2 linked regions of the Homo sapiens genome follow. The protein of the gene in region 1 purifies or fractionates together with the protein of each later gene. This does not show direct contact. Each region holds a gene or a part of one and is shown on either strand. Other genes may lie near its edges.

Region 1 (3,500 bases):
AACATAGAGAGACACCACCTCAAAATTTTTTTTAAAAAATAAGAAATAGGAACAATTTTCCTCCCAGGTATTTTTTTATTGTCACAGTAGTTTCTACCAGTGAAGATGTAGCTAAAAGGCATCACCATACGAGTGTCCTTAGTCACCAAGCTGTATGAGGAGGCAAAAATCATTATTACATACAAATATTCATCCTTCTGTCTTTTCTCTCCCTTCTCTCACCCTGCTCTGGAATCCCCTAACCCCTTTGCTCTTCACAGTGAATTATTTTCTCCCTCAGTTTGCCCATTTCCAATTTTGGCCATAAAAGAACATCTACTATTCCTACTCTCTCTGCTTTGTAAATTGGTGATAAGATGACACTAATATAATGCAACTTGATTGCAAAGTAAAATTGCAAATATTGCACAGGAAAAAAAATAAGATTTATTCTTTGTTAGGATTAAGAAATATAACAGGGTTCTGGTGATTAAAATAAATAAGTATAAATATAAAATAAATTTTTATTAATTTTCATTTTTTAATATAAAATCCTAACAAAACTTTGAGATTTTGCTTCCCATTTTAAAGAGATTTAGATGACCTTTCCCAGGTCTCAATGAACCTGAGACAACCTGGGTCTATTACACTTTAATTAATGTTATTAATGTAAAGAAAAGGAGAAATGGTATGGCTTTGCATTTTCAAGTCCTGTAGATATATTTAACACAGTTATCTGGAAAACATGGTAAATAATGTAGTTGTGCATGGAGAAGATAGTCCTGCTGTGGGATGTTGCTGATTAGAGAAAACAAAAACACTGCTCTGGGCTGTGACTGTTCCTAAGCAGAGAGCTATTTGCTGCCATGTCCTAGAGAGTTATGGAAGCTGCCAGTGTAGACGACAAGTTGATACCAGCCTGGGGCTTAAGGAGCAAAAGCTGGTTGCCATCCAGAATTTGCAGGGCAGAGACAGGACAAAGAAATGTCATTCCAAAGTGGTCATGTAAAAGATTCTTGCTCTCCTGGAGTCCCGACTCTGAATCTGAGGCTATAGCTGGGCTTCAGGGGGCCAGGGTCACTTAAGACTACATTTAAAAATCTATGCATTTTACAGAGAATTTTTAGGGCAGTGAATTCATTCTATATGATATTACCAATGGTGGGTACATGTTATTATACACTTGTCAAGACCCATAGAATACACAACACCAAGATTGAGCCCTAATGTAAACTATAGTCCTTCGCTGATAAAGATGTGTCAGCATAGGTTCATCGATTGTAAAAAAATGTGCCACTCTGGTGCTGGTTGTTGAAAGTAAAGGAGGCTGTGCATGTGTGTGGGGGGTGGGGGAGAAGACGTATATGGAGGCTCTCCATACATTTTGTTCAATTTTATAGTGAACATAAAATTTCTCCTAAACATTTATTAATTTAGAAAAATATCTGTATTTTGTGTATGTCTTTCCTAGAGAGAGGTTTATAATTTTTGTTGAAGCTCAAAAATGCTGCACAATCCTAAAATTGTTTTAAGAAAATGAAGCAAACCCTTCTTTTCTGGAGAATCTAAATATACCTGCTTATAGCATCTGATTATATAATTGGCAAAGTTGAGGACAGGAAATGATACCCTAGGAGACTGACATATCTTAATGTAGTCATTGTGTTAAAAGTTTCAACATTATGAATAAGTCTAAAATATTTTTTGACCTTCCCCTAGCCCTATTCTCCTCTACTTCACTGTTTCAATGTTAATACATATCAAAACACTTTAATCTTGTTTAACCACTTCCTAATAGTTGATACTATAGAGCACAGTTCATTTAGCCATTCCACTGTTGATGGTTTTTTAGGTGGTTTGCCCTCTTTCTGCATTAGAGGCAATGCTACAATGAACATCCTGGTGCATACCAGCAAAGATTTCTCCAGGAAAGATACCTAGGAATTAAAATTGCACTTTATTTTAAGATACACTGCTAAAGAGCCCTCCAAAAAGACTAAAACCTATGCCCCCACTAGCAATATGTGAGAATGCATATTTTCATACACTTTGAATATTATCAAAGTTAAAATTTTTTGATAATCTCATAGGTGAAAATGGTATTTAGTTATAGTAATATCCATTTTCCTAATTATTATTAGTTTCAGATATTTTCTGTGTTTACTGGCCACTTGTGTTTCCACTTTGGTGAATTTCCTTTTTGTATCCTTTGCCAATTTCTCTCTTGGGTTGTTTATCCTTTCTGTTTTTATTTATAGGAATCGTTTATATATTGTTTGTACTAATATTTTTGGTGTTATTTATGTTGTAAATATTTTTATCCATTTTTATATATTTAGCTTTGTTTGTGATGCCTTAACCTCTGTCTTACATTTCAACGTTCTCAAATGTATTCTTTTCCTATTTACTTCTTATTTAATAAAGTCCTTCTCAATCCCCAAATCCATAAAGATCATAAATATATTTTCTCCCAATAATTTTATAATTTTCAGTCTTTAATCCATCTGAGATGTATTTTCCAAGAATGATTCATAAAGATGTCTTTATTTTTACCCTCAAAGCATAGGCAATTTTCTTGCCACAATTTCTTGAATAGGTCATCCTTCTTCCACTGATTTGAGCTGAGTCCACTAGCTACAGCATAGACAACTATTTAGGGTTGCTCAGAACACAGCATGCTATTTTCCCTTCCTATAGCCATCCCTGTTGCGTGTCATTTTCCTAGCCTAATGCCTATTCCTTCAAGACTAAGTTCAAGAATCAACCCTCCACGCTCAGAAAGATTTCCCTCATTCTCCTCACTATACCCTTGTTTAAAACTCATCAATTACTTCCATTTAGAAGAAAATCCAAACTCCTTACCATGGCCAACAGGCCATACAAGAGCTGCCTACTCTCAGACCTCATTTCCTATAGCCCCTCCTTGGCTCACTCATTTCCAGCCTCACTGGGCTTGTGTTGTTCTTCCAACACTCCAAGCCCAGGCCCTTTGCTTTTGCTGATCACTCTGCCTGAACTTATTTTCCCTTTGTATGACTTACTCATTCTTGTCCTTCACATCTCAGTTCGAATGTCCACTTTTCAGAGAGCTCTTCTCTGATTGCCCTCTCCAAAACTGTGTTCAACTACAACACTCTATACTTCTCTTTTACTTTCTTATTATCCTCATCAGAAATCCTATTATTTGTTGACTTGTGTATTATTCACTTATCCCTCTAGAATGTAAGCTCTTTGTCTTACCACTGTATTTCTAAAACCTAGACCGAAACTTGGTATGTAGTAGAGAATTAATGAATATTGGATGAATGAATGTCCCTGCTTGTGCTCCTGATGGCACCTGTGCTTAGCTCTGTTGTAGCAATCCTCACACTACTACCATTGGGTTTTTCTTGCCTGACTTTTCCACTAAGCTTTCTGAAAAATCATTATTTTTTACTATGTCTAGTGTCTGTCAATAAATGTGCACTGACAAAATAAATGAGTGAATGAATGGGAAATTGATGTTGAGATGCCGTTTTTAA
Region 2 (3,500 bases), on another chromosome or scaffold:
GCAGCAAACTACATTTCTATTAAAGCCCAAAATGAAGTTGTCAAAATTCAGACAGTCAGTGCCACCGCAAATATAGCTTTGCTGTTGAATGAAATAAATTATAGTCAATGAGACAGACACACTCCTTATGTGACCCTACTGACAGAAGTTGTGGGTACCAATTCGACTCATTTACTGCATTATGCAGCCATATAAACTTTGACCTTAGGAGGTCATTTTAACTTTCCATCTATGACCCAGCTGACTGACAAGCCCTTTCAAAACTGCTGTCATTCTGCCCTGACATGTCTTAGCAGAGCAGTCACAAAACAGTTGTACTGAGCTGGTATTCTTCCCCTCCTTTTTCCATCTCATCCCTTGAACTTTGTTCTTCTCTGTTAAGAAAAGATGTGCCTGTAATCTCAGCACTTAGGGAGGCCGAGGCAGGCAGATCACCTGAGGTCAGGAGTTCAAGACCAGCCTGGTCAACATGGCAAAACCTCATCTCTAGTAAAAAAACAAAAATTAGCCAGGTGTGGTGGTGGGTGCCTGTAATCCCAGCTACTCAGGAGGCTGAGGCAGGAGAATCGCTTGAACCCCAGAGGTGGAGGATGCGGTGAGCCGAGATCATGCCATTGCACTATAGCTTGGGCAACAAGAGTGTAACTTTCACAAAAAAAAAAAAAAAAAAGAAAAAGAAGGAAGGAGGGAGGGAAGGAAGGAAGGAAGAAAGGAAGGAAGGAAGGCAGGCAGGCAGGAAGGAAGGAAGGGTGGGTCTGCCAATTAGCATCTTTGGGTAAGATTGAGGATGCTGGTTTAGGAATACGTGGGAACAAAAGTTTTAAGAAATCACACCTATTTCACAGGTATTTTTCCTTAAATCCCTTTAAAAAAAAAACCCTGAATTTTAGGGACATGTTATACCTAAGAGACTTTGCTTATCATCATTATTTCTTTTTATTTTTTGTACTAGTAGCTGCCTTTTCCAGTACAAATATCATTACTTCTTCTACATTAATAATCATCACATTGGTCTCTTGAGCTTATACATGACACAAAAATAAAGACAAATGAGTATGGCAAGGGAAAAAGGCAAATTGCATCTAATTGTTAGTTTCTTATGGGGCTATAGTTTGACGCAGGGCAATGAGGGATACTCAGTCTCATTGAAGTTTCTATGATGTAGAACTGCAGTTATATCAGAGTCCCATGCTTCGGGTTGTAAAACAGGTTTAGGAAGTCTTTGAAAGCTAGGCAGAAAAAAGTAAAGGACTTTTTTTCTAGTAAGACATTTTATGATCTGCTTAGTATGTTAAATGTTAGCTTCCCACCATGCAACTTGCAATCCCATTACTTGAATATAGTGGATTCAACTAGAGGGAATTTCTCACCCTTTGTATCTCCATTGAGTTCACCGCTTCATATTGAAAACACCAAAAACTAAAAGCGATGAAAACAATAAAATCCAAACCAAAAACCCCAAATAGAGTTAATGAGAAAAAATACACCTGGCTAATAACATGGTTCTATGTTGGAGGTGAGAAGTGATTCGTATTATAAGGTCAACCTTGGAGAGGGTGGAAGATTCCATGAGGTTTAGATAACCTCATCATGACAACTTTCAAAACCTGAGACACTTACAGCTCCCTGAAGGGAACAGTTGCAGCCTACAGGAAACACAAAGCCTAACAGCTTTCAGGGTTTCTATGGACTCCAGGGAGTAAGGCTCCACTCTTGGGCATGGTCATCATCCAAGCTGACAGGCTCAGTGCATAGGCTAAAGATTCCTCCTACCATTCACAAACCAACCATTTCAAACTTAATCCCCAAATTGGAGATATTCAACGGTCAGCTGTCCCCTTGGTCCTCAGTTTGTCCCCTGGTGTTTTGTGTACATATGGCAGCTAATAGAACACACTCATCTGAAACCCTATAATAAATCACCAGGCCAAAAGTATCAAGGAAAAATGGAATGTAAGCATGCACTTGGAATTTCCTTGCTTTTGGCCATTTATGTTGCAAGCTTGCAGATGTTGAGAAATCTGCATCATCTGGCCAGGGACGGTGGCTCACACCTGTAATCTCAGCACGTTGGGAGGCCAAGGCAGGAGGATCATTTGAGGTCAGGAGTTCAAGACCAGCCTGACCAACATGGTGAAACCCTGTCTCTACTAAAGATACAAAAATATTAACCGGGTGTGGTGGTGCATGCCTGTAGTCCTAGCTACTCGGGAGGCTGAGGCAGGAGAATTGCTTGAACCTGGGAGGCGGAGGTTGCAATGAACCGAGATTGCACCACTGCACTCTAGCCTGGGAGACAGAGAGAGACTCTGTCTCAAAAAAAAAAAAAATCTGCATCATCTTCTTCCTCCTCCCCCTTTTTAGTTACTAGAGCTTAAAATAATTATGAAACCTAATAAAAACAAAAAACCCACAAATTTCTAATCTTGGTATCAATACTATTTTCTTATGTAAGAGTCAGCTGGGTAAGTTGATGTCTAGATGGGAGGTTGGTGCGTGTTGTACATGTGCAATTTAAACCAGTGTTTAATTATGGAGCCTCTTATGTGTTCATTATAAACCTGATTTTTTAGGGGGTATTTAATATCAGCATCAAAATTCCCTCTGGGGTTGAATCCTAGAACATGCTGTCTCCAAATGTGGCTGCTCAGTTTTTTTTTTTTTTTAATGGGCAGCAGCGTTTTTTATTATTCATGTTGAAATGGAGCCCAGATCAGCCTACATGACTGGCTACATGCTGGGGGTAATGGCTTCTACCAAAAGGCTGTTGGGGGCTTAAAAAGTGCAGAAACTACCTGTTAATATGAAAAATAATAATGGTTTCATAGGAACCATTTCAAAATTCCCCTATAAATAATATGCACTTAAGATCTTTTTTCCTTTTTTTTTTTTTTTTTTTTGAGATAGAGTCTCTCTCTGTCACCCAGGCTGGAGTGCAGTGGCCTGATCTCGGCTCACTGCAAGCTCCGCCTCCTGGGTTCACGCCATTCTCCTGCCTCAGCCTCCTGAGTAGCTGGGACTACAGGTGCCCACCACCACGCCTGGCTAATTTTTTGTATTTTTAGTAGAGACGGGGTTTTACCGTATTAGCCAGGATGCTCTCGATCTCCTGACCTCGTGATCCACCGCCTCGGCCTCCCAAAATGCTGGGATTACAGGCGTGAGCCACCGCGCCCGGCCACACTTAAGATTTTCTTAAATTGGTCTCAACCCATGGCTGTTGCACAGAAATCAATTATGGGAGACAAACACTTCTCTAAAGTTTTCAGGAGAGTCTTGCAGGATACAGCACCACAGTTCCAAGGTCCCCTTTCCTGGACCTCCAAAGCATTTTTTTTGAGACACGGCTTCACTCTGTCACCCAGGCAGGAGTGCAGTGGTATAATCACAGCTCACTGCAGACTTTACCTCCCAGGGCTCTGGTTATCCTCCCACCTCAGCCTCTTGAGTAGCTGGGACCACAGCGGGGCACCACCATGCCTGATATTTTTTTTTTTTTT

The links. Proteins that work in one complex are often made in the same cells at the same time.
Region 2: the proteins of NR1H4 (region 1) and ARID5B purify together in Homo sapiens (pull-down; one study listed by IntAct). This does not show direct contact.

The regions. Positions count from the first base shown.
Region 1 is NC_000012.12:100,476,866-100,480,365, forward strand, and holds part of NR1H4 (bile acid receptor), read left to right. Parts: intron 1-3,500. UniProt on the Homo sapiens protein: Ligand-activated transcription factor. Receptor for bile acids (BAs) such as chenodeoxycholic acid (CDCA), lithocholic acid, deoxycholic acid (DCA) and allocholic acid (ACA).
Region 2 is NC_000010.11:62,086,699-62,090,198, reverse strand, and holds part of ARID5B (AT-rich interactive domain-containing protein 5B), read right to left. Parts: intron 1-3,500. UniProt on the Homo sapiens protein: Transcription coactivator that binds to the 5'-AATA[CT]-3' core sequence and plays a key role in adipogenesis and liver development.